5 separate regions of the Homo sapiens genome follow, and all the other regions are linked to region 2. Evidence: fine-mapped expression QTL. A gene starts in region 2. Each other region holds a variant in brackets. All regions are shown on one strand. Distances are from middle to middle.

Evidence for each region. PIP is the estimated chance that this variant, and not a neighbour inherited with it, causes the effect. A credible set is the group of variants that fine-mapping cannot tell apart.
Region 1: its variant is the best candidate, but not a certain one, in a credible set for the expression of FZD6 in whole blood (TOPMed, PIP 0.67).
Region 3: its variant is the best candidate, but not a certain one, in a credible set for the expression of FZD6 in whole blood (TOPMed, PIP 0.58).
Region 4: its variant is the best candidate, but not a certain one, in a credible set for the expression of FZD6 in whole blood (INTERVAL, PIP 0.59).
Region 5: its variant is the best candidate, but not a certain one, in a credible set for the expression of FZD6 in whole blood (INTERVAL, PIP 0.72).

The regions. Positions count from the first base shown.
Region 1 is chr8:103,252,183-103,258,555 of GRCh38, reverse strand. The region is part of intron 1 of LOC105369147 (a long non-coding RNA gene); the gene reads left to right. Among named protein-coding and RNA genes, the nearest start is that of FZD6, 44 kb to the left of the region's middle. The variant T/C (reference allele first, on the strand shown) is at 3,027.
Region 2 is chr8:103,295,742-103,302,114 of GRCh38, reverse strand. It overlaps FZD6 (frizzled class receptor 6), which reads right to left and starts at 3,217. Exons shown (of 7, transcript NM_003506.4): 1 at 3,120-3,217; 2 at 1,831-2,159. The coding sequence starts at 2,007. LOC105369147 (a long non-coding RNA gene) reads left to right here and starts at 3,297. Exons shown (of 2, transcript NR_148216.1): 1 at 3,297-3,766. RefSeq lists enhancers at 2,737-2,786, 2,640-3,140, 3,141-3,641 and silencers at 2,780-3,074, 2,937-3,186, 3,307-3,476, 3,487-3,536.
Region 3 is chr8:103,338,868-103,345,240 of GRCh38, reverse strand. No RefSeq gene overlaps it. Among named protein-coding and RNA genes, the nearest start is that of CTHRC1, 29 kb to the left of the region's middle. The variant CT/T (reference allele first, on the strand shown) is at 2,550.
Region 4 is chr8:103,177,786-103,184,158 of GRCh38, reverse strand. All of the region lies in intron 1 of BAALC (BAALC binder of MAP3K1 and KLF4), which reads right to left. Among named protein-coding and RNA genes, the nearest start is that of BAALC-AS1, 8.8 kb to the right of the region's middle. The variant A/T (reference allele first, on the strand shown) is at 3,357.
Region 5 is chr8:103,233,466-103,239,838 of GRCh38, reverse strand. No RefSeq gene overlaps it. Among named protein-coding and RNA genes, the nearest start is that of FZD6, 62 kb to the left of the region's middle. The variant TC/C (reference allele first, on the strand shown) is at 2,864.

The DNA of each region.
Region 1 (6,373 bases), 44 kb after region 2:
GCTCACTCTGCAGGGTATTCTTCTGGTTGCTCTGGAAATTGATCACTTTCTCATTTAACAAACCCAAGTCCACAATGGCACCTGACAGAAAACACAGCCCTTGAGGGAGCATGCCCTTGAGGGAGCACTACTCAATATTTTAAAGTCATACAATTAATACATGGTAAGTACACAAGCCCTGAAGTATTACTTGGGCTGATAAAAGATATAGCACATGCCCGGGGAAAAGCTCATTACATGGCAGCAAAATTGTCTCATTGATGTTTCAATTCCAGAAGGACAACTGAACCACTTACTCAGGGAAATTTTACATGCCATAAATGAGGCAGAAGGAGCTATTTATCATATTGTGTAATTTCACATACTTCCACTCCCTTGTTACTGGAAGCAACTTGGTATGAGAGGAAAAGCAAATGATTTGGAGCTACAAAGACCTCAGTTCAAATCTCAGCTCTGACACTTATTACCGGTATGACTTACATGAATTCTTTGAGTTCCACTTTTTACAAATGTGAAAAAGAGATAATAACATAGCTCATAGATATTTGAAAGATTAGAGGAGCTAATACATTCTAAGTATTTAGTAGAATGCCTAGCCACATGGTAAACATTTAATAAATATTGAATTTACTTTTAAATAATTTTTCTTTTTCTCCTTCCATACTAATTGAGTTTCCTCTAGATGGCAAACACAGTGTTAAATAACTAGCAAACAAAACATCTGTCCTCTTTCCTAACAGAGAGAGTTTAAGGGCTGATGGGAAAGAATGACACTGAACATTTAAAACAAACAAGTATCAATTACAAGTTGTAATTAGGACACTAAAAGAAAAGAACTTAGTCTGTGGGAAAATAATAGGGGGGACCAATTTAGATTAGGCAGAAAAGGAAGTTCTTCTGAGGAGGAGCCATTTAGGCCTAAAAGATGAGAAGTGGCCACCTGGATGACAGGGAAGGAACCGCTTGGGGAAGGATTCTGAAATAGGCAAAAGCTTGATGTGTTCAAGAATCTGGAGGATGACCAGTGTGAATGCAGCATACTGGAGGAGGGAGAAGGTGGCTGACAGCAGAGTGAGGCAAGGGAGAGGTCATGGGAAGCATTGCCAGGTAAGCATGGAGGAGGAGGGAAAGGGCGAGAAGGAAGGAGAAGGACAGCTAGAATTCACTGAGCACTTGCTGTGTGCCAGGCACACTTCTAAGAATTTTACATTTATTAACTCACATAACACCCTAGATGAGCGGCCTGTTATTGTAGGCCTTGTAACGGGGCTTGTGTTTATTCTGAACGCAATGGGAAACCATTGAGGGATTCTCAGCAGAGAGAGCCGTGTTTGGGTTTAAATCTCACAAAGGGCCTGCTGCTGTGTTGAGGAAAGATTGGAAATATTCAAGAGTAGAAACTAGTCATTATATTCTTAACCACTCTTTTCCTCTTACAAACCCTGTGACTTGAAGATTTGTTGGATATAAAGTGCCTTCTAATGAATGGATACAATTATTACAGTAAGTTCATTGCAAGTGCAGCAGGAAAGAAAAGCAGAAATAAAACTGTAAAAACCATAACATATGACAATTTTATACTTTGTATTAAGTCCTATGGGTAAAAAGTATCTATTGGGATAAAAATTCAAGTTTTAAAAGAAGGAAAAAAATACGGATTTCACAGATTCCTTGGCCTTATAGAAACGGGACCTTACAAAATAGTAATCAAGTTTACACAAAGAGAGTCTGTTGCAATTATTTTGCAAGTCAGCTGAGAATTTTTTAAGTGAATCAGAGATGGTGTAAGTTGCCTGTAACACTACAAGAGAATGAGACTATAGCGATGTGTGGTACTTCCCTGAGTGTGTGGATGCCACTGCTGTAGGACAGGGTTGTCAGTGCACGCTTACCAACTCACTAAGTCCTAGCAAAGGTGCTGCTTCATCAGGAGAAATATTAGCTTTAACATCTAACACTGGTACCTTACATATGCATAATCCAATGTCAAGGATTTAATCGGCATATTTGAGTTAAAATCAAGGGTCGTCTACACTGAGATTTCATGGTTTACTTGCTTCCCTGCCATGCTTGATTGAGCAGATTAGTGACCTGGTAGTGGAGAGTATATCTGTCATCTCTTTTTGCCTCTCTACCTTACATGGTGAATTAACTTTTAAGGCTTAAATAAAAATTCAAAAGGAATAGCTCTGAAGTTGATTTCTTTGGAGATGTGTGAAAATTTAGGGACTCCTTTCTTCTAGATTGTCCTTAAATGTCTGAGTTTGCCAGGACCTGGGTCTCTGGTTCTGGCAGCCTTCACTCGGCTCAAGGGGGTTCACTGTGTTTGGTTGTGTTTACATTTGTTATTGTCTAGGGTAAGATATTTGTATTGGGTGAGGCCTTTTAGACCACAGAAAGATCACTATCAACTTCAAACCTATTCATTTCCATCTGTTAGAGAAACACATTTTGCTTTTACTGTTTATAGAGTTAGAGCCAGGCTTATTGTTCTGATGGGAAGGAGAATGATGTCATCTCTGCTGACTGTAGTAATTGTTTGGGAATGTATTGATATGGTTTTCTACTGCTGGGTTTGTAAGTGTTTTCCTTGTAAATGGCCCAAGGTGGGCAGGGGCATCTTTGCCTAGACAGGCCTTTGCACTCACAGGAAATCTCTGCTTTTCCTTTTCCTCTTGTCTCTGAAATGTGCACAAACTTCTTTCCCCCTTCTTCTACCACTTATCAAACCCTGTGACCCAGTGTCCCCATGATGTGTGCATCAAGATTAGTTACAGATAACAGAACACTCTTGCTGGTTTTAGCAGAAAGGGATTTAATATGAAAAATTAGATGCTTAATGAACCTCTGGAAGGGCTAAGGGGCAAGTTCTAAGCTTACCTCCCACGAATGAACTCTGGTACAGCTCCACAGAGCTGCCATGTTCAGGGAACTGCTATAAAAGAAAAGGAGAAAAACTTGAGACCTTGGTCAAAGTTTTTGCTAAGAATCCATCATTGATTTGTCATTGTTATGTTGGTTATGGA[T/C]TGACGCAATTGCTTTATTATGTTAATGTTGGGGAAAAAAACCGTGACCTGTGTCTTTGGTCAGTGCAACAAGGTCCCTAGATTTGTAGCCTGGGAGCTTGTTACAAATAAAAGATCTTGAGCCCCCATCCCCACTCCTATTGAATTAAAAGCTCTAGGGGTGCAGCCCAGGAATCTGTGCTTTAACAAGTCCTCCAGGTGATTCTGATGCAGAGAGGGTAACCAAACATCCTGGTTTGTCTGGGATTGTTGGAAGGATTTCTGGGGTACTGGACTATATTGCTAAAACCAGTAAAGTCCTGAACAAGCTAGGACAAATTGGGCACTTAGATGCAGCTAAAGTGTTGGGAAATACAAATTTTATTTGTATCTGTTGTACAAATACAACAATGCCTGGCTTGTTGGCAAGGGCTAAAAAGGGTATCTGTGAGTCATGAGTATGAGGTACAATATTATTGAAGCAATGACGAAACAGCAAAATACTTGTTTGTTACAACTTTTCATACATCAATGAAGAATGTGCCAAAATTCTGAGCTTTCAAAAGTGGCTTTTAGTAGTGAGAATTGACAAACTGAGAAAGCATGTTTTGCAGATGAATTTTCACAAGTCATACACTCAGTTTTATAAAATAATTTTTTCTATAACTGAATTTTAATTTTAAATCTCCATTCTGCCTGGTAGGATAATTTAACCCCAGCCATTTTAAAGAAAACATAGTCAAATCAGAATTTTCACTCTCAAATCTGCCTTCCCCCCAACCCCAGTCAGTTCAGGGTTTCTACCACCCTCTGTTCCCTAGATCATGTCTAAATTCTGAGGAGTTTTCACAGAGCCACGTGTTGAGGGAGAGGGAGGCATCTGTCCCTGCTGGCATCTGCGGAGTTGTACATCATCCCTAAAGGAAATTTCTAGAACATCTGGGTTCCCCATCTGGTTTCTGGTAGTTGGTCCAGGAAAGTTACCCCATATCCTTCTCATCTCTGACTTAGTCTTCAAACCTGCTGGCCCCTCTCAGCTACTTTTGAGCCCCTCATAAGGGAGTGTGAAGGCCTTGGGACATTTTGGGTGCTCTTCCAAACTACTGTAGGATCACACGGGATCTCATGGAGTTCTTGCAGGCTTTGCTGCCTAGACATGCCAGGCTGCCATTTCCAGTATGGATATCTCACCAGGCAGGTCAGGAGAAATGCCATGAAGCTTGTTATCTACCAGGCCTCTATCAGGTGCAAGGCACAGGACTTCTCTGGTTTGGATCTGCCAGTCTATCTGAGGTTTCTGGTGCCCCCTCTGGAGGATCTGATGATGACTCTTGGGGCACAGGGACCCGCGTGGGGATGCACAACATCTATTTTCTTTTCATGTCCTTTCTGTTATTTTGCTCATCCTCCAGTCCAAAGAATGTTTATCTCATCTAGGGTTAGAAAATTTGCACCTGCATAATCAAGAATTATTCTCAACTTACACTTAGGTATCAACTTTACCCCCTTGGGTTCTTTAGAGATGTGGCAAGGACTGTTATTTGCAACTCTACATCTATTCTCCCTTTCTGCTTCAGTAACAAGTGCTGGTTTCTTTTTTTGAATCAGCTGTGTGCCCTGCTAAAAAAATTATGTTTTCCAGGCTCCCTTGAAGCCCAGCATGGTCATGTAACTACAATCAGACAAATGAAATATAAGCGTAAGAGTTGCCTGGTACTTCTGAGACGGCTGCGTAAGTGATCTGACTCAGCAGGAAGGTCTTCTCTTTGCCTTTCCCTAGTTCCTATTGCCTCAGATGTAGTTATAATGGTTGGAGCTCTAGCAACCATCTTGTACCAGCAGGTAATCTTGAGGCTGCAAGCTAGTACTAGGAGGTAACTGAAATATAGACAGAGTCTGAATCTCTGATAACCACACCTGCTCTAGCCTATCTACCAGACTTCTTCTACAAGAAAGGGAAATAAACTGTATTCAAGCTTTTCCATTTTCTGTTTTATGCAGGCTAACCAACTCTAAGAGGGATTTGGCTTTTGTTCTTGAAAACTCTTTTCTCTCAAGCTGTTTTTTCAGCCATGGGTCCAAAGATCGACATAGAAACTCAAAAGATAAAATCAGATCCCTTTTGTTTCTTTGCGTTTATATTGCAAGAACCCTTTTCTGAAGGCCACCAAGAGGACATCTTTTTGCTGCCTGAAAAAGTAGAGAGAAAGAAACAAATGCTAATATTTTAAAATGTTCTATCTTCACACATGAAATTTATCTAAGCAGTCACCATGTCTCGGATTAAAATCTGGACTTTAGGGTTTTAAAGATCTAAGAGAGGCCATATAGAAAAATGAAAGATTATCAATACAATTGATGATGTCTGAAAGCAGTGCTATAGGAGTTCGTTTTAAAACAAAAGCTGCAAATAACATTCTGAGCTGCTTCTCCTAGCCCCTTCTTAATACTTGAGTGTTCTCTCATAGCAGCCGCGAGATCATATTTCTTTGTATTGCCTACTGTATTTCACAGTATGTCCCTTAGTTGACATTTGTTTATTGATCTGGGGCTTGTTGGGTTGACTCTTCAATAAATGGCACAAGTCACCAACTTCACAAATAACTTACTGCTCCTCTGTGTTGACAATTATAGCAAATTGTATTCCTTCTTAAGGAAGTGATGGCTATTCAACCATGGTTAACTAGGTTTCCTGAAATAGGTATGTATCACAGGGCATGTCTTTCTTAATTTTATTTTATTTTTGCAAGGTTGTGATTAATTTGGTTACTGAATTTGATGGTATAGATATTGATTTAGCTTGGCAATCTAGAGAAGTATAATTAATTTCAATAAAAATTCAGCAAAGGCATTTATGTTCTATCTCCAAGAATATATCCCCATTTGAAAATCTATTCCTTCCTCTCATTAGATATTCATAAGCCGTAATTTCAAGTTTTATAGTATCAATTATTAAAAACTACACCGATTCTTCGATCAGATACTATCAGTACAATCATGTTGACAAACAGGCCCTATGACTTGTATTTTTCAGGTCAGTCTTTTTTTTTTTGAGACAGAAGCTCACTCTGTCACCCAGGCTGGAGTGCAGTGGCACGATCTTGGCTCACTGCAACCTCCGCCTCCTGCATTCAAGCGATTCTCCTGCCTCAGCCTCCGGAGTAGCTGGGACTACAGGTGCCCACCACCACACCCAGCTAATTTTTGTATTTTTAGTAGAGATGAGATTTCACCATATTGGCCAGGCTGGTCTCGAACTCCTGAGCTTGTGGTCCACCTGCATCAGCCTCCAAAGTGCTGGGATTACAGGCGTGAGCCACTGCGCCCAGCCTCAGGTCAGTCTTGATTTTTATTTAACGAATTTGTAC
Region 2 (6,373 bases):
GTATTGTGACTGCTTGATGGCTCTCTTCTTTTGTATCCTTAAATTTACTGAAGTATGATTTATAGCAAAAAAAAAAACTTCATTAGTAAAGGCTATGAGAAAGGTTAGTTATAAGTGGAAAATTATATAATGAAGAGATTGGTAGTATTAGCAATCATATAAAAGAGGTAAGAACAAAAAGCCTTCTTGATAATATCCAGGCACAAAACTACTTGGGAAAGAAGCTAGGTAAATTAAAAAGTAATTTTTTTGAAAGTAAAAAAAATTTGGTTTTAAAAAGACGTGCAGAACAAAGCTAGTTGCTACCATCTTATAATTACAGGCATTTAATAGCAGGGATGCATCTCTCTTGAGTCTAGGTGATATGAATTTATAAGGTCACTGTTAGCATTCAAACTTAAAATGGTCAGCCAGGTGCAGTAGCTCGCGCCTGTAATCCTAGCACTTTGGGATGCTGAGGCAGGACGGATCACTTGAGCCTAGGAGTTTGAGACCAGCCTGGGCAACATAGTAAGACCCCATCTCTAAAAGAAAAAACAAAAACCTTAAAATGTATGTAGTTACCACATACAAAGGAAATTAGATTTAAAAAATTTAGGAACACTATTAAAACATGAACACTACAAAACATATTATCATCAGCAAAAAAGTGAATGAATGATGTAATTATTGCTTCACAGTGTTCTCACTATATACTTCATATTGAATCAGATTGAACCATCAAAATGGTTCTGATTCATGAAAGTCTCAGTGCATCATTTGTTCAGTTCAAAAGGACATCTAGCATCAGTTTGAAAAAAACCACTGAAAGATAACAATAATATAATCTGTACTATCCTTTTAAATAACATCTACTTAGTATTTATAAGCTTTCCTATTCCAGACATGAGTCCACAATGAGGCAGTCAGACAACTATTCAACTGAACAACAATAGAAAACTTTCAAAGCTGCAAAATCAAATCTAATCAATTTTAAAAATAGTATATATATTAAATTTGTAGGGATTTCCTCTCTTAGCAACAATCTGAGGGAAAAAAGCCTTTACTATTCTGTTTTTCTGGAGAAAAACTACAAAAACAATGCATGTGTCTAGTTTCCTTCAGGAGACTTAACAACCTAACAAATCTGTATGGGAAGGCAGGTTCCTGTCTGTACAGGTAGCTTTCTTCTCACACTCCCTAGTAATTTGCATATCTCTAAACCAGAGACAGGTAACTAAGGCACCTAAGGCAATCTTTAGTGTCACTGTACTCCTCCCAAGTGGTTTCTTTTAACAAGTATCTTATAAAGAACATATAAGTGCTATGCTTAGAAAACAAAGTCACTTTTTAGTGACTTTGTGATAGCCTTAAAATACAGTCTACAGCAACAAAATATTCTGATAATTTATTTATTTCAGAAAAACTGTACCAAGTGAATATTACAACTACTTATAAAAACTTGTAAATTTCTTCAGTTTTAGTCCAGGCAATAAATATTACATGTTCAGTGAAGTAGAAAAATATTCAGAATTCGCATTTCTAGAAGAACTATCATACTTGATTCAGGAAAGCAAAATATTTTCTAGGTACAAGGTATTTAGAAATCATGTGTAACCATACTTCATTATATAAAATGAACCCTATTCAAACGAATCTACTAAACAGGGCCGCAAAGGTACACAAAACATAAGTCAGTAGAGGGATTTAATTTTCAAAAGGACTTTTCAAAACACAACTTGTACACAACTTGAAGAAATCGGCTCTGTTTAAAAATAGACTTATTTTTACTAGTTTATTCTAGAACAGAGCATAAACTACTATTCAATAAACGTATGAAGCACTACTCACCTCCATTTCCACCGCGGCAATACTCTGGTCATAATGACCCATCAGATTAGGGAAAAACGTCATGTTGTAGGCCATTTTCATACATCTGGGAACAGTAATTGGTTCACAGGTGAAGAGACTGTGCCCTCTTAGGAGGGGTAGAAAAATACACGTCAACAAAAATGTAAACATTTCCATTTTCTTCAAATTCCTGATTTTACCACATGGCTTGGATGAATCACTCTTTGCATCCTCAGAAGATCCCCATCCAAAGATAAAATGTTCAAATTCCTCATTTCACTATTTTACTCATTTTCAGGCTTTCCTGAAAATGAGTCCTGGGTCAATTACTGTAAAAACAAAAGGAGGGTGTATCAGCAACATTTGTCATAAACTCAAATGTGGAGTCAAAGTGCAGAGTTAAGATTTTCACCCCAGGTAACAAACACTGGAAAAACAACGGAAAATTCTGTCCTAACGAGATACTCTTCCACCTGCCTTAGCATGGAATATATCATTTGCTAAGGAAGCTGCACCTCTAGGAAACCGATGCTAGGAGGTTGGTGCTGTATGGAAGACAGGGTTAAAAAGAGGGAATGGCAAGAGTAAGATGGAGGAAAAAAGGAAAGCTGGTGATTCGGAGTAAATTATAAAGGATTAATATAAGCATACAATCTAAGGGCCCCTGTTGGAAAGCTTATTAAGTACAAGAAAACTAAGGCCCTGGGAAATTCCTTAAGACCCAAAGAGTTCTTAAACTTGTAAAAGACTCTGAAGAGTCAGTTTTTGTGGCAGTCTTCTGGGTATGTAGTTTTCTCGATTTTCGTAAGGCCAACTAGAGGGAGACTTTTAGGATTCCTCCAGTGGAGGAGCAACATTGCAGTTTTCACTGGCTAGGAGGGTGTAGTGCTGCCGTCGAAAGGAAAGTGCGCAAATCTGTCCCGGGGGAAGGGCGAAGGCAGTCCCCTTGCGGGAGGAAGGCTGTAGGCCCCGGATTACGAATTACCCGCGCCCCAACACACACTGATGCCCGGTCCGCCAGCGCCCCACACCCGGGAACCTGCCCCAGGCCTAGAGCCAGACAGCAGCGTTCCTGGCCTGCGCGGCGCCGCGGGGCCCCGGCATCGCCTTTCAGAGCCGGTTCCCGCTTCCGAGGAAACTCAGGTGCGGGCCGTCCCGCCGTTGCCTCCCCAGCACCTGCGGCTCCCGGCGCGCCTCATCCCAGCCGCGGCCCCTCGCCCCTCGAGGCCCTCCCCGCTTCCCCCGGCACCCGCCCGGCCCCTGCCCAGTCCCAGCCGTGGAAGCCTCACCTCGGGGGGCGGTCGAAGGCCGCTGTCCCTTCCCGTCCCCGTCTAACCCACCGTTCCCCCCAGGGACCTGAGACGGCTCCGGGGTTGCGTCCGGGACTGGAGCTGCCTCGAGAGCCGCACGGGGAGCGAGAGCTGAGCGATCCCGCGAGACTGCGCCGCCAGGTCGGGCGGGCAGGTCCGGGCTCGCGGCGGCGGCGGCGGCGGCGGCGGCGGCGGCGGCGGGACTGGCCCTGCGCCCGGGCACCGCCTGCGCTGCGCCGCCCGGCCTCACTCCGCGGCCCGCCAGGACCCGGCCCCGGTGAACGGGCTCGGGGTGCCGAGGTCCGGCTGCGGGGCCGGGAAGCCACCTCCACCTTGCCGTCTGTTACGACCCCCGAGGCGCAAGGCTGAGCCCCATCTCGCTATCCGGGTCCGGAGGGGTTCACCTTAGAAGGATTTTTTGAAGCTCTTGGCGCTGGCTCTAAAAGAACCCACTTCCTTGCGGATTTCAGGAGTCAAGAATCCTTAAACGGAGCCAATTTGCTTTGTAAAGCCAATTGCCCAAGTGACTTGAGTTCGAAAGGAGATACTTCCTGGACAACTGCTATAAAAACAACAACAAATACTTTTATTAATTCGGGGAGCCTGGTCACCAACTGGATGCTCAGGTAGCAGTGGGATTCCAGCCCTGGCGGGTCCCACAGTTTTATTGATACAAACCCTAATAGGAAGTTGAACTGCTGTAGAAATCAACCTAGTTTGGGGTACCAACTCTGTCATAGATATTAGATAAATTACCCTAATCTTTAAGGGGCATAGTTTCCTCACAATATAGGAATGACAATAGTTGTAATGATGGTTAACGTTAATTGAGCACTGGCTGTAAGTCAAATAGTGCCAAGTTCGTTACAAGTGTTTACACCTAACCTGTAAGGCCCTCCTATGAAACAGGCAGAATAGTATGAGAAGCAAATGAACTTGTAGAAGTACTTTGAAAAATGCAAAGTAACTTGTAGATGGAGGCTATTCTTGTCAGATAAATCATCCTGTTGCAGAAAAGGAATGTCATATTTCCATACCTAGAAGGACAACCCTGAACAACCAGAGTAAGAGTTTTGGAATCTGTGGGGAAAGACGAATTTGGAGTGGGGAATTCCTCCCCAGTTTTATCAAAAGCTTACTGATGTTGGGAGACAGGTAGTGATGAAGAAATATTAACATCATTAAGAGCTGGATAGTTGATGTATTGCAGAATAAATTTCTATGTAGGAAGAATATTTTCCCCTAAATTTCTAATTTTCTACATTGGAAGACTATTTCTCTCCAGTTTCTACGAACTTAATGAGATCTTTTTGTGATCAGGCTCTAGTGACTACCAGGCAGTGAAGTATCACTAAAAGTATCATTTAAAAACGATACTTTTTAAAATATCGTTTGAAAACGATACTTTTAAAGTATCATTTGAAAACGATAGTTTTGAAATTCAAGTGAATACTTGTTCCATTATTTGGAAGGAAAAATTGTAGTAAGTTGATTTATACAGAAGTAAATAAAGCCTGTTTTATTTTTCATTGTATTTAATTATATAGTGAGCAGTGATGAACTAGAATGATTTTTTTTTTGTCAGGATGGATTTGGAATACTTAGGCAATCATCTATATCATCGCTTGTCTTTCACTGTACAATTTCATCCCAATGGTACGAGATTAAGAACACAAACTTTGGAGTTCAAAATCCCTGGGTTCAAAACCTAGCTCCAGCATTTACTTGCTGTGTGAACTTGAGCAAATTATTCAGATCCTCTTTAGTTTCTTCATCTGTAAATATGGAACTATCTGACGGTTTTCCTCATTTTCCTTCTCTTTCTCTTTGCATTGTTCCTCTGGGCTGATGCTAGGGGACAGTGGTGACCAAAAGTAGAAGAAACAGACTTTTACTTTTAAAGGCTAATTTTGCAAGGTACAGAATTATAGGTTGGTAGTTTTTTTCTCTGAACACTTTTACTCCACCTCTCTTCTTGTCTACGTGGTTTCTGAGAAGTTGGATGTCATTCTTTATTTTTGTTCCTCTATAGGTAAGCTCCTCATCATTAAGTATATTGTTACCTTAGGGTTTTTGTAGATGTTCTTTAGCAAGTGAGAAAGTTCCCCCTCTGTCCCTAGTTTGCTGAAAGTTTTTATGATGAAAATGTGCTGGATTTTGTCAAATGCATTTTCTGCATCTATTGATGTGGTCATGTGATTTTTCTTCTTTAGTCTATTGGTATGGTAGATTACATGAATGAATTTTCAAATATTGGACCAGCCTTGCATACCTGGGATAAATCTTGGTTATGCTGTACAATTCTTTTTATGCATTGCTGGATTCTACTAGCTAATATTTTGTTGAGGATTTTTACATCTTTGTTCAAGAGATATATTGGTTTATAGTTTTCTTTGCTAGTAATGTTTTTGTCTGGTTTTGGTATTAGGGCAATGCTGCTAGGAAGTATTCCCCCTGCTTCTATCTTCTGGAAGAGATTTTAGAGAGTTGGTCTAACATTGTTGGTGACTGACATTAATTTGGGGAAATTTTCAGTCACTATTGCTTCAAATATTTCTTCTGTTCCTTTCTCTAATTCTTCTCCTGGTATTCCTGTTACACATATGTTATACTTTTGTAGTTGTTTCACAGTTCTTGGATATTGTTTCTTTTTTTTAAGTCCTTTTTCTCTTTATTTTTCAATTTTGGAAGTTTCCATTGACATATCCTCAAACTCAGAGATTCTTTTCTCAACCATGTCCAGTCTATTAATGAATCCATCAAAGGCATGCTTCATTTCTGTTATAGAATTTTATATCTCTAGCAATTCTTATTCTTCCTTAAAATTTTCATTTCTGCTTACATTAACCGTCTGTTCTTTCAAGTTGTCTACGTTTACCTTTACAACCCTTAGTATATTAATCACAGTTATTTGAAGTTCCTGGTCTGATAATTCCAACATCTCTGCCGTATGTGAGTCTAGTTCTGATGATTGCTTTGCCTCTTCAAACTGTGTTTTTTGCTCTGTAGTGTGCCTTGTAATTTTTAGTTGAAAGCTGGACATGATGCACTGGGTGAAAGGCACTGGAGTAAATGGGCTTCAGTGATGCGGTGTTAAGATGTGGGAGGAGGGGAAACATTCTATAGACCTATGATTAGATTTCAGTCTTAGTGAGCTTGTGTCCCTAGGCTGGAAACTTCACAAGTGCTTCTTAGTTTTTATCCCCCTTCTTGGGTGGGACAGGATGTCTAGA
Region 3 (6,373 bases), 43 kb before region 2:
TGCAAAGATATTTTCCCCCTCTTGCCTGACAGAGTCCTGGAAAACAGAAGGCAGAATGAGGCAGGGAGGTTCCCCTCCTGTCTAAGTCCTACAGGGTACATTATTAGCAAACTCTTGGCCTTGAAGTTAGGAGTTGAGTCCAGTATCTAATCCAATCACTATTTTCTGTTGGAGTTATAGTAATCCCAGGCCTCAGGACACCCAGAACTATGAGCTAAACACTTAATTCCTCAGTATATTTAACTCATGTGGTTATGAGTCATTGTTAATACATTCAACAGATATGCTGGTTTCCAAGTTGCCTATCCAAAGTAAGGGTTTTAATTATTTTTCTTAGTGATTTGCTCATGTCTGCATACCAGCAGTCAGGCTTGGCTGACCAAAGCCATCTTGAAATATTTAACTTAGAATTCTGTATAGGACTAAAACACATCAAATATTTCTAAGATCTCTATCCAGAGACACAGGACACTCATCAAAGTTAAGTTCTAAACCAAGTTACAGTAGAAGGTAAAAACCAACTTTGCATTTTATACATTAATATCATATATAGAATCAATGAAATTTTACATGTTGTATTCCAGAAACAAGCATATTTTATCTTTTACAAAATTGAAAAAAAAGTTTATCTGGTAAGAAATAATTTGGAAACTTCTAGAACAGTGTCTAAGATAATGAAATTCATAAAGGTGCTTATTTTCATTTATATCTTGATATATAGCTTGAAATGCAATATGCCTCAATTTACCTGAAGCGTCAAATTAAATAAATAATAGAAGTTTGCAAAACAGGCTGTTCTTTCTTGCCACTTCGAGCTACCACTGTCTTCCTCCACCCCTATTTTGGAGGTAGGTGGGGAATAGTATATGCTTATTTTGAAATCAAACAATGTAGAAGTGCATAATGTAGAAAGTAAAAGTTTTCCCTGCTATTGACCCCCAACATAATCTCACTCCTCTAAAATAACCATTGTCTGTAGTTTGGTACATATATTTCTAGTCATTATACATATACAACTGCATTAGAATATAAACCAAATAGGATTATCATATACATATTATGCTATAACCTGCTTTTTTCACTAACAGTGAATCCTGGACATCTTTCCCTATGAACACTTACAGTTCTTCCTTGTCTTTTAATTAATTTAGTATTTTCACAGTATTCCATGGAATGGAATAAATTATATAACCAGTTGCATATTTGTAGACACTTTAGCTTCTGTTATAAATGATGCTTCAATTAATATCATTGAGTAATATTCCATTATTTAATACCTTCCCAATCTGAATTGACCTTGTTTGTTTATTCAGTAACTTGCTTATTGCCTGATACCTCCTGGAATGTAAGTTTTATGAGAGCAAGGACCTTTAGTGTTTTCCATTAGATCCTTATCCCTGAGATGGTGCCTGACAGATACCATAATTTGTGATTATTTCTGGGATCACTTGGCTGTTTCTAGAGTCCATCAATGATGCAGGGAGTCAAGGGGCACTCTGGAGAGGTGGCCGCCTCTGGTCCTCTCCCTGCCTCGTCCCACATTCAGCCCTTAGAGCTCCTTCCTGCCCAAGCAGTTCTCTTTTTGGAGAGTCTGATGCCTTGGGATCTTTCCAGTCTGAAAGCCAGGATCCAGTTTAGGTCTCAGGAATCCCACACCCACCCTGGCACCTTTCCTCTTTGCAACCAATCTGGCTGTATGGGGCCAGGACACATTTAGTCACTCGCATCCCCTGACCCCTGTGTTCTTGGCTGTATCTGATGTTCTCCTGAGGGAATGAATGCCCTTCATTGATCCAATGTGTTGGGAGCTGCACAGCAAGAAGTATTTGATATAAAAATACTTTAAGCTGGGTGTGGTGGCTCATGCCTGTAATCCCAGCATTTGGGAGGCTGAGGCAGGGGGATCACTTGAGGCCAGGAGTTCAAGACCATCCTGGCCAACATGGCAAAACCTTGTCTCTACTAAAAATACAAAATTAGCCAGGCGTGGTGGCCTGTGCCTGTAATCTCAGCTCCTCAGGAGTCTGAGGCAGGACAATCGCTTGAACCCGGGAGGTGGAAGCTGCAGTGAGCCGAGATTGTGCCACTGAACTGCAGCCTGGGCAACAGAGTGAGACTCAAAAAACAAAACAAAACAAAAAACTTTAAAATATTTATTTTTCTTTTGGATAAAAGTAACAAAATCCTTTAAATATCACCATGACTACTGAAGGGTAATGATTATGCTCATGAAATAAAACTTAAATCAGCGACAAACCAATGCTTTCATCTAGGTAGTGTCAGAAAGGGGGAAAATTCTGAGGCCTAAGCTGATATCCTATAGCTGCCTCTTCCCTCACCCACCCCATGTTTCCCTCTTCATCCGCCAGCCTTTCATTTGGTTGGAGGCTTTTTTCCAAGTGAAGACACAAACTGTCATTCCTAAATGATTAAGGTCTTGGTGGGCCTGTCTTTGTTGGGTTGCCACAGTTTTCCAAGGAGTGCAGTGGTGCGATCTCAGCTCACTGCAACTTCCGCCTCCCAGGTTCAAGTGATTCTCCTGCCTCAGC[CT/T]CCCAAGTAGCTAGGACTACAGGCATGCGCCACCACACCCAGCTGATTTTTGTGTTTTTAGTAGAGATGGAGTTTTGCCATGTTGGCTAGAGTGGTCTCAAACTCCTGGCCTCAAGTGATCTGCCTGCCTGGGCCTCCCAAAGTGCTGGATTACAGGCATGAGCCACCACGCTTGGCCTCTTGTTAGATATTATATGTTCTGTTATTTTGGTTATCTTCTTCGGGGTCACTAGTTATATAAATATTAATTTTCTTTGTCTTCTGTAACTACCATTTTCTCTTTCAATTTATTTAACTCTTAGTCATTTTTATTTATTTTACTATTTTCATTCCTCTTCTCTATGTCCATTATCATGTTATAGGAAATGTGTATTTTCTGTGCTGCTTCCAATTCTTTTCTATTTCTTTCCAGAGTTTTGGCAGTAATTCATGTTTTGCCTCCTTGTATCTTTTCCCCATGTCATCTCCAAGCTCTTATATTGTGTATTTCTTTTACAGTGTTGATTGTTTCACTGATTTCTAAAACTTGTAAAAATGATACGTTTTGTCAAACATGTTATCTACCCTATAGCAATATTTTCTGGGAGGGATTCTGTGTCATTTGTTTGTCTTGTTTCTCTTCTTTTCTTTTTCTTGTAGCTTTATTGTATAGGTCCTCAGTTCCACTTTAAAATTGCTATTCATTTTTTGATGAGTTGAATTGCTTCTGAACCAACTATTGTGTAAGAGTTCATGTAAGTGAGAAGCCAGAGTATTGTTCCAGCGTAACAGGAATTCTTATTTTGACACAGGATTGTGCATACGACCTCTTTCAATCTTTTCTCTAACTAATTATCAACACAGGGCTAAGAAGAAAGCAGAGCCTCTTCTTTTTCACTTTATTTACAAATAGATTTACCAAATACCTCTGTAGTTTGTCTGAGTGAGTGCTCATTTAGTTATACCTCCCCCTGATTTTTGAGAATGTATGTTGATGTTAAACCTGCCACTGGAGAATGTGGCTTATTGTGAGAGTCAAATGGGCTTGCTTGTGTTCCTGGCCTCCTGATCCTCCCAAGATTAGATCTTAGAACACATCACCCAAGGCAAAATTTGGTCTTCAGAACAGACCCATTTACCTGAGTGTGTGTGATAGAGGCTTGACGTGTGGTTTTCTTAGGAATTCTTAAGTGGTGTTCCAAAAGCTTCACACACACACACACACACACAGATACACAGATACACACACACACAGACATGCACTTGATATTTATAAATTTTAAAACCTAGGGTGCCAATTACACCTTTTTGTTTGCCTTAGTAAACAGGGCTTTATAACCAGTAAATGGTCCTGTGTCCCAATCCAGAGAAATATGGAAGAAGGGTCTTAGTAAAATATTTTAAAAATCATAAGGTTCTATTATTCCCATGGGTCTCTGTTCTATGTATGAGACATAATCTTAACTCCTTGGTATATCTCAAGTTCCGTGCCGTGAGGACCTGGTCTAGAGCTTGAAGTACAGATGACAGTGGACTTTATCACCTCCTCCCACTCCCAGAAAATGAGGAGGAGGAACTGTAACATGCATCCCAGTCTGAATACCAGACTCTAGTCCTGAAAAACATAAAATCAACCCAAACCTTGATGTAATCACTATACATTACATATATCAAAACGTTGTTGTGTATCCCACAAATAGGTACAATTATTATGTGTCAATTAAACAATTAAAAAATTAAAAAAATTTTTGGCCGGGTGTAGTGGATCATGTCTGTAATCCCGGCACTTTGGGAGGCTGAGGTGGGTGGATCATCCTGGCCAACCAACATGGTGAAACCGTGTCTCTACTAAAAATACAAAAATTAGCTGGGCATAGTGGCACGTGCCTGTAGTCCCAGCTACTTGGGAGGCTGAGGCAGGAGAATCACTTGAACCTGGGAGGCAGAAGTTGCAGTAGACGAGATCACATCACTGCACTCCAGCCAGGGTGACAGAGCAAGACTTTGTCTCAAAACAAAACAAAACAAAAATTTTAAAGACAGAAAAATGCTGTTGAGAGTCACTGAGTTCAGGGTCTATAGTGTGCAGGTTATCTTGCCAAAATATCATATACTTTTTCTTCTTGGCTATATTCTAGAGGTTGAATGGCAGATCTAGCAGTGATAGAAGAATATCTTTGGGAGACTCTAGTGGTCTCCTGGGCCACAGCTGGGGCTTACCTTTCACTGATGTATTAAGTATTCTTATTGGAACATTTTGTCCTCTTGGTTAAAAATAATGAATCTTTGGTTTAAGTGTCAGATGGTTAGGAAAGTTATTTTTGCTATTGGCAAACATATTAAGAGGAAAAATTGACTCATCTGGTCTAGAGGGAAAGGACTAGGTTAAATTCTAAAATCAAAACCTAATCTCTTAGCAGCTTAGGCAGTAGGCAAGTACAGACAAGAAACTTAGGCCCTTCACAGTTCAGCCTATGTAGGAACTATCCATCAATTTGGGAAATGCTGATCAAAATTCGATGGTCCCCATGAACACTTAGCCATGGCTACTAGGACAAAGCGAGCTATAAACAGACAACTTTCTCAGCTCCATGGGCTCCTGTGCCTCTGTCAGAACTCAAGGGCCTGGGTCAACTGCATGGCTCTAAGGGACATGGGTGAATATATTGCTGGAGTTTCCAGAGAAAAACGGGGGTTTATCTTCTGCAGAAAGCCACGAATGCCTTAGATTCTCCCTAACCTCAGATCTCACTTTTGAGCAGTTTCTCAACTTGAGGTTGAGGCATATAGAAGTAAATTGTGGTGATGTGTTGCCCACTGCTGGGGGCACTTGAGGTACTGGTGGTGTGTGCACTAGGGTGTGGACAGGAGGAATCGGCCCTGGTGGGTGTTCCACTGAACGCAGCCTACCTCAGCTTCCTCTCCTTCACCTGTGTCCCTGATGTCTCACCCTGGGAGGCTCCTCTGTCTTCCCTGTGCGGGAACAAATCAGCAGGTCTGGGCTTTATTTGTGGGGGTGGGAGTCAAATCTGGAGAAGGGACTGAAGAGAAAGAAGCAGGCACAGAGGTTCCCAATAAACATGTGGTGATTGCCAACTAAAGAGAATATGGTTCCAGAGAAAGGAGAAGCGCAGGATTGAGGAGCCAAGGGGAGTTTGAACTGGATGCACCGGTGGCTTTTCCCGACCTCAGCGGTGTGGGCTGCCCCTTCCTGGCCTGCAGGTGTGTGGCCCACATCCCCAGAAATAATGGCTGCTTCAGGCTCAGACTCAGGTAGATGTGGCTGAATCCACGAATTAGCTAGATTTGTGCTTAGTGGATTTTCTTTTTAAAAAAGCAGATTCTTGGCTGTGTGTGGTGGCTCATGCCTGTAATCCCAGCATTTTGAGAGGCCAAGGCAGGTGGATCACTTGACGTCAGGAATTCAAGACCAGCCTGGCCAACATGGTGAACACCTGTCTCTATTAAAAATACAAAAATTAGCTGGGTGTGGTGGCAGGCACCTGTAATCACAGCTACTCAGGAGGCTGAGGCAGGAGAATCAGTTGAACCCAGGAGGTGGATGTTGCACTGAGAAAATGTTGCGCCACTGCACTCCAGCCTAGGTGACAAAGCAAGACTCTGTTTCAAAATAAATAAGTAAATAAATAAATAAGCAGATTCTTAATGATGACATATGATATATTAATAGAGTCTCCTTATAAAAATGTAAACATTACAGATCAGGCTAAAGTCTGCTTTGTTCATCACTTACAATACTGACCCCCTCCACAGAGATAACCCATGTTTCTATATTTTCCTGGACTTCCCCTATGCATTTATATACATGTAACCATAGAAAACA
Region 4 (6,373 bases), 120 kb after region 2:
GAAGAGAGAGACTCAAAGGAGATATGACTGTTTTTAAAGGCACAGAGAGATGCAATGTTGCTAGTTTTGAAAATGAAGGAAGGGCCATGAACAAAGGCATGCAGGCTGCCTCTAGAAGCTGGAAAAGGAAAGGAAATGGATTCTCCCAAGGAGCCTCCAGTAGGGCATGCAGCTCTGATGACAACATATCAGGCTTCTAACCTATGGAGCTGGGAGATAATACATTTATATTGTTCAAGCCACTAAAGTTGTGGTAGCTTGTTGCAGTAGCAATGGAAACGAACACACTTCACATCATGGGAGTTTCCCATTCTGTTTTCAGGGACCATGCCCAGGAATTCAGTTAATACCTAATGGTACTCTGTAAACTTAGGTATTCCAGTGACACAACCATAACTTCTATGCCTGCAACCAGCTTCAATAATTATATGCCTAGGTTCATGAGCAGGTATGGAGCAGAGGTGGTGGGGCTGGATAGCTACTCACTGCAACTTTGTTGGAAAAGAACTGACCACTGCTAGCAATTCCACGGCAGTCATACTGAAGCCTGAGTGTCCACCCACTGCCGGAAAATATGCTTCATGACACCTGGGCCTGAGAGGCTCTCCCAAGCTATAGATTACCTGGTTTTGCAGAGTTGTCCCATACCCACCTCCCCAGATCTGGTCCCCCCATACCCTCTCTTACCTGTACATGGTGTGTGGCCATGCTACCTGCACAGTCCTTCTTGAACCAGCAGAGCCCCTAAACTGTTGTCTCTCCAGGCAAGTGCAAAGGCAAGAGGGTAATGGGCTAATGGGCAAAACCAGGAAAATAAGAACAGTGGAAGTGGTTAGGACTCAAAAGGGAAATAAGACATTCCATGTTTTTCTCCACTTCCCATCATCTTTGGGATTCTGACAAAGGACTCTTGGCCATCTTGCTGGTGTCCACCCAACAGCCATTTTCACTCTCCTTGGCAGACCTCATTTCCTATGACAAAGGCTGAAATGGCAATCCTGGCTCTCCCAGCTCCCCAGCAGCACTTCCCCCAGCCCCAGGAAATAAAACATGACTGGTTTGAGATAATAATGGTTAAATCCTCTCATTTTCCAGTGATGTGTTCTATGGTGAGAATGTGATTGAATTCTGTCCCATGATATGTCAAGGTCATCTTCTGTGGGGCTTCTGGGAAAAAGATAATGGAGGAAACTTCCTTTCCTGCCTCTGAATGGTGTTGCCTGAGAGTGAATGAAGACCTGTCCCCATGGGGAAGAAGTCCTGGAAGCCTGGCCTCCCTGTGCTATGGAGTTAGCTCACCCTGGAGCCTCCCTGCCTCTGAGTTTCTTGCTATGGAGATAACAAATTCCTTGCTACTTAGCAGCCTGGTAGGTCATTCTGTCACTTGCAGCTGGAAAAGCTTATCCGTGAAAGTTCTCTCACGGATAAGTATCTTGGGATTCATGCAGACCCCAGGAATTCCTGGTCAGTTAGCGCCTTCTTGATGGAGATGTATGGACCAAGTGGACAACACAATAATAATCAATAACATAGGGTCTCTACTATCAGGACTTCACAGTCAAACACTGTGAGGATGGAAACCTCTTCCTATCTGCTCCTACCTGTGGATTCCAGAAGTCATGAAGACAGTGTGAGTCTTGTTACTTACTTCATGTTAAATCTACATTTAAGTCTTACTAGAGATCATTGATTGTCAGATGGAAAATTTGTTCTCTTAAAAGCCCAGGTGTTCCGTATATAACCACATGTTACGTCTTTCTGTCCCTCTTCTCAACACTACAGAATGAGGCAGAAAGCAATAAAAGCCATTTGGGCAAAAGAGCAGCTGAATCAAGCACTTTGCAGAGTTCACATCAAAGGGGAGTAAATGTTCAAAAGCCCAAAGCCCTAGCCTTGTGCAGATCTAAACAGTAGGATACTGGGAAGGGAGCTGGCTGGAGCCTCAGAAAATGTAGAGTTGAGATGTTGCACACCTGCAGATGAAGAAATGGGGGTTCCTTGGAGGCTAATTAATTCTGTGGCAAACCAGGGTGGGATATGAAACAGCAAAGGAGGCAGAATGAGGAAGATAAAAGAAGAAAAGGCTCTGGATGAAGCAGAAAGGAAATTTCATGTCTCATGCCCGGCTAGGTGCTTCACCCAAAATCCTCATGGAGAGGGATCCGGAGTCAGCCCCAGAACGACACTGCAAAATCTATCCAGTATATAAAGTATGGTTATATATATGAATACATTTCTTATGTTCAGTGAACAGCATAAGGTATGTTCTATAACATGGATTTGGAGTTCTTAACTTTGGTTGCAAAATCCCAGGTTAAAAGAAGCCAACTTTTCACCTGCTACCTAAGTGGGTGCCACCACCAGTATGCAGCATGTTTGGCCCATAGAAACTGCTAATAAATATTAGTTTTAATATCAGCTACTATTAACCAAATTCTCATTTATTTTGTTATGGCTATTAGGTCCAAATCCCCTGTAGCTGTGGCCCTAGGTCCCGAGGAAATCAATGTACACTAAGACAGAAACTATTTAGCTACAGCACATGGAGAATTTTATTAGCGGCATGGGGTTACCTAAAGATATTCCTGGCCGGGCGAGGTGGCTCACACCTGTAATCCCAGCACTTTGGGAGGCCAAGGCGGGCAGATCACGAGGTCAGGAGATCGAGACCATCCTGGCTAACATGGTGAAACCCCCATCTCTACTAAAAATACAAAAAATTAGCCAGGCGTGGTGGTGGGAGACTGTAGTCCCAGCTACTCAGGAGGCGAGGCAGGAGAATGGTGTGAACCTGGGAGGTGGAGCTTGCAGTGAGCTGAGATTGCGCCACTGCACTCCAGCCTGGGCGACAGAGCGAGACTCTGTCTCAAAAACAACAACAAAAAAGATATTCCTACAACACCCTGCTCACAGCCTGACTCACCTAGGGAGCTTTTGCAAAGATGAACACTCCAAAATTGCTAATTCCCTCCCCTTCCACCTCCAGAGCACAACCACTCACCTCTGGGGAGTGGCAGGAAGGAACCGTTGTGGGATAGTCGGTTCCTACAGCACCTCCACCCTTTCCTGAGAATTCTCTCTCTTCCTTTTAATATTCTGAAAGGCCTCAAAACCTCATCACGAAACCTAAACTCTACATCTTATATCCCAGAGAAAGGAAAGCCAGCTCTCTTCAACTTTTCCCCTTTTGAGCTGTGTTTTCAGGGATGCTATAACTGAGGTTTACTAGAGTTTTCTAATCCAATTATCCAGAAAGGAAGGAACAAAAGAAAAGCCATTACATAGATATTTGGTCATCCAGAGTCACCTGAATTCAAGAAGTTGGGCAGATACAATTTTGTCTTGGTTCATTTTCA[A/T]TCCTATCTATTTTCACACAATCATTGCTTTACATCTCAACTTGTTCTCCTCCTTGCCTGAAAGGGTTTCCCCAAGGAAGGCTTGCCTGCTGAATCCCAAAGAACTGGCGGGCAGCATCTCCACTTTGCATCTTGCTCTGGCCCTTATTTTGTCTAATCCTCTCCCTACATCCTTCTGGTCCCTGTTTTCCAGTTTCTCTCTCCCTGGTGAGTCACGAGGAACGAGGCAAGGGCTTGAAGGATGCTAAAGTTGGAAGCCTCCTTCCTGTAACTGCCACAACATGTGAGGTTGGTGCTTTGGATGTAAAATATCTTGGAAGCAGCTCCTGTGCCAGCCAGACCTGGATTCATGCTCTGCCAAATTTTTGTTCTGAGTCCTAGTTCCAGTCCCTTTCCTCTCTGAGGCCAAGCACGTGAGCCTTGCAGGGTGCAGCCAGCCAGGAAGTCCCAGATTCAGTTCCTGGGTGCCATTCATGCAGTTAGATTTCTGGAAACCATAGTGACCACTAACAGTAAACCACGGGCACCACCATGCTCTCAACACTGCTGTGATTTTACCCAGTTGTTCTCTTCTTCCTGGAACTCTAGTTGTCTTAATTTCTCCATCTCAGAATTGCATTCCTCCCACTCGCCCACCCTGTCCTATCTTTGGCCTGATCTCTTGGCTATAAATCTGCTCCTTTCTTCCACTTGTTCTTCACAGCTCCCCATTTCTGCACTCCCCCTGCTTATCATTGTCTTCTGGGCCTCCCAGTAATCCCAGAACCTGGCCCAGGCCTGCACTGTGGGCAGATTCACTTTTGGGCCTCACATTCCCTCTGCGCCAGGAACAACAACTTCCCTCTGCAATGAGTACAACCACCTCTCTTTGATCATGGAGCTGGGAACTCTGGTCCTCATCAGACTCCCTTAGGGCTTATCCCTGAGACTCTAAGGCCATCACAGCCTTCATCCTCAGCCTGCACTACTGAATATCCCTCCCACAGTAATTATTTGCCTACATCCTTATCTCCCCAGGAAGACCATCAGTGCCTCAAGAGCAGGACCTCGTGTTAGCCATCACCTGGCTGTGAGCCCAGCGCAGGGCCTGGCACATAATTGGTACCCACAAAGTTTTAAAGACTTCATAGTGACTGCTTCACATCCATTTGGAAGAAGACAGGATTGAATTGGACACACCCACATGAACTAGCTATGTGACTTTAGCCGAGCCATCTCCACTGGTATTCCTCAGCTGGGAAACAAGGAGGGTGAAGCAGGCCTAGAAAATCTCTAAGGATCCTGTTCTGCTAAAAGTCTGTGACTCCGCATAGAGCACATTGTGCTTCTATTCAGCACAGTGACCCTCCAAATGGTAGTTTTATTTGTGAAGAACAATTATCCAGAGATTGGGATAATGCAGAAAAGATGATTAACGTTATGCTAGGAGCACTTCCCAACAAGCTCACCTAAAGGTGTTCTGGGGCTCCTACCCAGCATGACTTTACCCCCAGTGGACATGTGGAGATGTTTCAGCTGTAGAGGCCACACATGCTACTAAACATCCTACAGTGCCCACGACAGCACCCCCAACAAAGAATTATTTGGGCCCAAAATTTCCATAGTGCTGGAGGCATTGAGAGATCCTGGCCTAGAGCGTGCAACTTGGTTTGCACATTTGATTAGGGCCAAACAGTTTACAATTCTGAGAACTGATCATGCATGATGAGTTTCTTTTCTGTCTGATAGAGAAGAGAACCCCAAAGACTATGGGTTTGGGTTTTGTGGAATTTTTTTGTTTTTGTTTTGTCCTTTAGGATGTAACTAGTTTTGTATTTAATTTAGCAATCTTATCTCAGCTTTCCTTCTTTCCACCAACTATTTTTAAAAGTTTCTCATATTCCCTTTTGTTCTGAGCCATTTATTTATTTTGTTTTTAAATTAACTTTTTTTTTTTTTTTGAGACAGAGTCTCACTCTGTATCCCAGGCTGGAGTGCAGTGGTGCAATCTTGGCTCACTGCAACCTCTGCCTCCTGGGTCCCAGTTCAAGCAATTCTCTTGCCTCAGCCTCCTGAGTAGCTGGGATTACAGGCACACGCCACCATACCCAGCTAATTTTTGTATTTTTAGTAGAGACAGGGTTTCACCATGTTGGCCAGGCTGGTCTTGAACTTCTGACCTTGTGATCCGCCCACCTCAGCCTCCCAAAGTGCTGGGATTACAGGCGTGAGTCACTGTGCCCAGCCTAAATTAAACTTTTTATTTCAAAATCATCTATAGATTGTTGTAAGAAATCGTACAGAGTGATCTGTGTGCTCTTTTCTAATTTCCCCCAATGGTAACATCTTACAGAATTGTAGTACAAGATCCTATCCAGGGTACTGACATTGGTACAATCCACCCGTCCTATTTAGATTTCCCCAGGTTTAATTTGTACTCATTTGTATATTTGTACTTAATCCTATATGATTTTATTACATGTGCACTTTTACTTATCCACCACTGCAACCAAGATACAGAACAGCTCCATCACCACAAGGATTCTTCATGTCGCCCTTCTGTTAATCACATTCTCATATTCTCTTTTGAGCTGACTTTATCATCCAGCTGTGACCCTCATCAATGAGTTAAAAAGATAGTGATACCTGCTCACTATTTATTTGTATGATAATTAAGTTTTTAACATTTTGAGAAATATACTTTGATATAGTCCTCTGCTTTTTAATGAAACTACCTATTAAGTAGCAACTTGATAGCTGAGCTCCAATGACAAGACCAGATGGTTCCTAATTTCCCCACCAGAGATTATATTAATGAAAACCATCACTCTACATGCTAGGAACACACAGTGATCTTGAGCAAGCAGCCTAACTTCTATGTGATTTAGTTCCTTCTTCTCTAAAATAATAGCTCTGATTTTAAGGAATTTGTGGAGGATTCAACTAGTTAATATACACAAAGCTCTTAGAATAGTGCATGGCACATATAAATTACAATAAATTTTACGGTATATTATTTTATTTAATGTCCACATCAA
Region 5 (6,373 bases), 62 kb after region 2:
AGTTTATCTGTACAAAGGAAAGATGTGAAAGCCCCAAATTCACTGCCCTACAACTCCTAACAAATCACATCTTTACATCCAAAGTCATGTCTCACTTGCCGATTACCAGTTTGGGGAAAACTACCCGCCAAAGAGTCTGCAAATGAAAGATGTCAAGTTTAAAGGGACATCATAAAGTTCCTAGAGCCCAAACCAACTAAAGAGATTTCTTCCTCTACATTATCTGGAGTCAGTGCTTCTTCCCAGAACCAACAAGTACATGCTCCTTAGGATGGTTTCTTGAAGATATTACTTTCCTCACCCCAGGGATGTCTAAGGTCCATTTTGTGTTAGACAAGAAGTGCTTATCTTGAAAACAGGTTCATTTTGTGGTGGATGAGAACAAAGTACTTAAATAAAGGGCCAGCCTTCTGGTACATTTACCCTTGAGAGCTGAATTTTCTATGCCAGGCTTGCTCATGTCCTGAAAATTTCAGGGCTGAATCACAGTTCAACAATAATAACCTTGTGTTTACCTTCCTATGCTAGAGACTGTGCTAAGTGCTTTATCAATATATCCTTACTAAATCCTCCCGATATCATGAGATATTTTGAGCCTCATTTTCTAAATGGGCAAAAGGGAACATGGGGAACTGAAATGACTTGCCAAGGTTACAAACCTAGTAGGTGGTGTAGCTGGCATTCAACCCAGGAAGTCTGACTTAAGGCTGCCTTATGGAATTTTTGAGACATGAATTCCATCTGTGCTCTGCTGAGCCAGTGATTCTCAAACCTGGCTGTACATCAGGACCATCTGGGGAATTTTTAAACATCTTGATTCTAGGTTGTACCCCAGACCAGTTAAGCCAGAATCTCTAGGAGGTGGGACCCAGGCAGCAATAGTTTTTAAACCTCCTCAGGTGATTCCAATGTGCAGCCATATTGCCAGTCAGTGTGCTATACAATCATGATTCTTTCCACCTGTTATTTTTTAATTTTATTTTTTTTTTGAGGTGGAGTCTCACTCTCTTGCCCAGGCTGGAGTGCAGTGATGCGATCTCGGCTCACTGCAACCTCTGCCTCCCAGGTTCAAGCAATTCTCCTGTCTCAGCCTCCTGAGTAGCTGGGACTACAGGCGCACACCACCATGCCTGGCTAATTTTTGTATTTTTAATAGAGACAGGGTTTCATCATATTGGTCAGGCTGGTCTTGAACTCCTGACCTCAGGTGATCCATCCACCTCGGCTTCCCAAAGTGCTGGGATTACAGGTGTGAGCCACTGTACCTGGCCTCCACCTGTTATTTTTTAAAACTAGAAAATAATTATATTTGTTGCTTTCCACAAGCAATAGTTAAGAGGCCAATGAGTACAAGACATTGTATACCTCCTATATTTGCATTTCCTTTCTCTTTGGGGACTCAGCTAGCTCAGGCCTTCACTTTCCTATTCAAGAAGGAAGAGGAAAAAGTGATTACTATGGTACCTAGATAATGCTTAGATTTGTAATATGTTTTAGAAAAAAAAACAAATTTATTAGTATTATCTTCAAATGAATTTTAATATTGTGGCACAACTGGAAAGACTGCTACTGCTTTATTACTGTTAAGAAAAAAAAGAAACAAAGCTGAAATTTTGCATAATTGTGTCTAGGGTGCTATAATTGATCCTAGAGAGGCACTGACAACTTGGAAGTGCCAAGATGTGATGCTATACAAAGGGCTGTGAAGTTACTTGCACAGTGACAAAAAGGAAATGAATATTTATGGAGCACTTACTCATGGTTTAACAGACAGAACATGGGTTTTCATAGACAGGCAGACATGGGTTCAAATCCCAACTCTGCAATTTACTAGCTGTGTTTGTTTTGGTTTTGTTTGTTTTTATTTTTTAAGACAGAGTCTCACTCTGTTGCCCAGGCTGATGAGCAGTTGCGCCATCTCAGCTCACCACAACTTCCGACTCCCGGGTTCAAGCGATTCTTGTGCCTCAGCCTCCCGAGTAGCTGAGATTACAGGCATGTGCCACCACGCCTGGCTAATTTTTGTATTTTTAGTAAAGACAGGGGTTTCACCATGTTGTCCAGGCTGGTCTTGAACTCCTGACATCAGGTGATCTGCCCTCCTGGGCCTCCCAAAGTGCTGGGATTACAGGCGTGAGCCACCATGCCTGGTCGGCCTTGGGCCTTTAAGTCTCCATTTCCTCATCTGTAAAGTGGGAGCTGAGAAGCCTTACCTGGCAGGACTGTATGATTGATGAGATAGTGTGCGAAGCATCTAGTATAGTATCGACGCATGGCGATAATTATGATCAGGTGGCAGACACCATGTTATCCACATTTGTTATCTCCCTTTATCTTCACAATACACCCTCAAAAATATGGTATTATTTTCATTGATGGAGGTAAGCCCTGAGAGACTCCACAATTTGCCCCAAGGCACAGAGCCATGAAACATCCAGTTAGGATTGGTCTTCTGTACCTGAAGCCTGTGAAGGCTGGCTGCCATACCTTGCTTCACAGGCCATCCCATAGCTGATGTATTTATTAGAACAGAGGGAGGGAGTCTCTGGATAATGGAATCAAATTTAAAAGGCAAACAAATTTTCAGCTATCTTCCAAGCACATGACAATGTTATGAAAAAGTCTATTTGGCTCAGAAAGGGCACTATCATTTACCCCTTTTCCTTTTAAGGTGGAGCTCTACCTGGAGAACACCCATCTAAGAAACTGAAATTGCAAAGCTCCCTCTGGCTTAAGTACTCCTAGCCTTAGCTCTATGCTGAGCTAAAAAAACAAAACAAAACAAAACAAAACAAAAACCTGGGTGAGCCATTGTCTAATCACATCACATGCACATTCCCAAGAGAATTAAGCATAAATTTTT[TC/C]TGCTGCTGGTTTTTATGGTCTCCCATGAGAGACCATAACAATTCAAATTGTGAGACATTTTGAAGTAATTTAAGAAGAATCAAATATTGCTGAAATAATTTGGGAGCTCACTGCAAGGGAACTTGGGAAATATAGCCAAGCTGGGTTCCTAGGAAGGAAGAGAATGGGCTTTAGGGAATAGGTACAAAATCCCTGCCACACAGGCCATCCAAGGGGAGGTGTGCAATGGTCATTTGGAAATATGGCATAGGAGCTTGGGATAGAGTGGAAATAGCATCTAAATTGTTGAGGCCATGGGATCAGATGAACTTGTTAAGGAAAACTGGGTAGAGTCTGAAGAGGAAAGGTTGAAAAGGGAACCTTGAGGAATACCAGAAATTAAGGGACAGGCAGAGGAAGAGGAATCAGCAAAGGAGACTGACAAAGAGTAGAATCAGAAAGACGGGGGTGACCAAAAGCAGGGTAGCATTTCCAAATGCAAAAGTTGACAAAACTTTGAGGAAACCCATCCTAGGGCTGCCCTAAGAAAATACCACAGAACAGTGGGCTTTAAAAATGAAAATTTATTTTAACAGATGCAGAGAGGTCCAGCAGGATGAGGACTTAGATGGTGTCATTGACTTTGGCAATTAGAGTATTCGTGACCCTAGAGTGTAGTTTCAGTTGGAGTAGTGGAATCAGAAGTGAGATGGTAGAGGCCTGAGAAGGAAATGCAAAGTGATGAAGTGGAGCTATGGAGCAGAGGGCTCACTGACAGTGGAAGACGTTTCTGGCATCCCAAGCAACTACTGATTATGAAATCTCAATTAGTCAGTAAATCTGTACTGGGCACCACATTTCCTGAAGTGCCATCTTAACAATTTTTAGTTGAGTCAGCTATTGCAAATATCTTTCTTCATCAGGGAGAGTGACAGGCTCACTGTGTGGTGCTCTTAAGTGTGTATGCATTTTCCTTCTCATCCCAGCTCCTACTACTCACAATGCCCTACAGCATCCCTTTATATCACCTGCCTGTCCCCTGAAAGCATGTAGTTTGTGACTTCTGTTAAGATATCTCTTGGGGCTCCTTTCCAAGTAACTTCTTATATCTGGGATAAATCAGAGATTCCCTCTGTAGCAAAACAGAACACTTATTTACTTATTTATTGGTCTTAACATCTTTTATTGTGGTACAATATACATAAACAGAACATTTATAGACCAGTGGCAGTGGGATGTATATCTCATGCTAGGGAGGAAGTGGAGGACTATCTACTGGTGGAAACCAAGTTGTGGAAAAGATGATGTTTGACTATGATAATAAAAAAGAAAGACAAGAGAGATGATGCTGTTTATATAGAAGCCTGCAACTACAACAATGACTCTACCCTGGAGATTGATCAAGGAAGCATCCAGTAAAGGAATGCATTATTAAACCAGCTACCTGCTGGGTAACTGGAACTTAATACACCTGGGAAAACTCTAGGAGCTTGCGTAAAATACGTATCTCAGCATTACCCCACCCAAGGTTGAAGGAGCTCTCATCAGTCATTGACTGATTGACAGGTGCTGGGATGAGGATAGGAATGAATAAGCATCAATAGCGCCAATGCCCTGGCAACTCCTGCCATGGGAGTGGTGAGATAAAGACTTCAGGCCACAGACAGCGGGTGCCTCAGTTAGAAGTCAGCATGGGTGCAGTAAAGGGGTTGAAGGGAAGGTAGAGCCAGTGGTGTCTGCTGTAGTCCTGTGCTCTTTTGTCCTCTGCCATTCTGATTCCTTTGAATCAAGTTCTACAAGTCTGAGTCCTGTCCCACAAATATCTGCCTCATAAAAACGTGCAGATATTTTTCTAGGGTATTGTATTAGATTGCTAGGATTGCCATAACAAAATATTGCAGGCCGGTGGGCTTGAAAAACAAAAATTTATTTTCTCATAGTCCTAGAGGCTAGAAGTCTGAGGCAAGGTTGGTTTCTTCTGAGGCCTCTCTCCTCGGTTTGTAGGTGATCATTTTCTCTTTTGTCTTCATATGGTCTTCCCTCTGTGTGTGCCTGTCCTAATCTTCTAATCTTATAAGAACACTGGTCATATTGAATTATGACCCATCCAAATGACCTTATTTTACCTTACTTACCTCTTGAAAGACACTATTTACAAATACAGTCAGTCACATTCTCAGGTATTGGGGGTTAGGACTTCAACATATGAATTTGAATTTGGCGGGGACACAGTTCAGTCCTTGACAGGTATATATTTAAAAATGGAATTGTTTGGCCAAAGAATATACACATTTTAAATTTGAATAAGTTGGCTAAGTTGACATTGAAGAGTGGCAGAATATGCTTTTCCAGAATATGCCATTTTGGCATAAGGGTTATTTTGAGCTAAAAGCACTTTTAAAAAGTGGGTGCGAACAGAACTTTTTTTTTTTTTGAGACAAAGTCTCACTCTGTCACCCAGGCTGGAGGGCAGTGGCACGACCTTGGCTCACTGCAGCCTTGATCTCCTGGGCTCAAGTGATACACCTGCCTCAGCCTCTCAAGTAGCTGGGACTACAGGTGCATACCACCATGCCTGGCTAATTTTCTTTCTTTCTTTCTTTCTTTTTTTTTTTTTTGTAGAGATGGTGTCTTGCTATGTTGCCCAAGCTGGTCTTAAATTCCTGGCATCAAGTGATCCTCCTGCCTCAGCCTCCCAAAGTACTGGGATTACAGGTATGAGCCAACGTGCTCAGTTCTTCAAGCAGAACTTTCTGACTTCCCTTTTTTTCCTGAAAGCATATAAAACTCCCATGTAAAAGATGCCCTCTCTGTACCAGGAGGAAAGAAATATCTTTATCACCAGAGACAGAGACAATTCTCTGTAAACAACCGAATTTTGTTAAAACAACTCTTATCTTTCTTTAGCTTTCCTGTATATTTTAATTACTTTTTCACAATTGCCTCACTTTGTCCAACATAGTAGGAAAGCATTGAGATTTTGCAACTTCTTTGGGCCGTCGTTTCTTTATAAAGTCTCTCAACTCACATAAAACTTAAAATTAAGTAAATCTGTATGTTCCTCTCCTGCTAGTCTGTTTTGTGTCAATCTAATTCTCAGGCCCTGCTGGGGTTCCTATGAAGGTAGAGGTAAAGCTTTGTCTGCCCTACACCATCCAACATAGTATCACTAATTCTATTTCAACCAGCAGTGTCTGACATTACTTCTTTCCCACACCCTTCCCAACACTGATATTATCACATTTTAAAAACTTTGCTAATCAGATAGGTTAAAAAGTGGCATCTCTTTTTTTAACCCAAATTTGCCTAATTACTGATGACACTGAGGATTTTTTGTATTTTTCTTGGCCATTCAACTTTCCTCCTGCCTGTTCATGTTATTTTCTCTTGGTCATTTGTCTTTTGCTTATGAAATTCTCATTTTTCTTAATGTATATCACTATACTAACTCTTTGATACATGGGCTGTAGATATCTTCTAATAGACTATTATTCATCTTTATGTGAATGTTTATCATACAGAGGTTTTA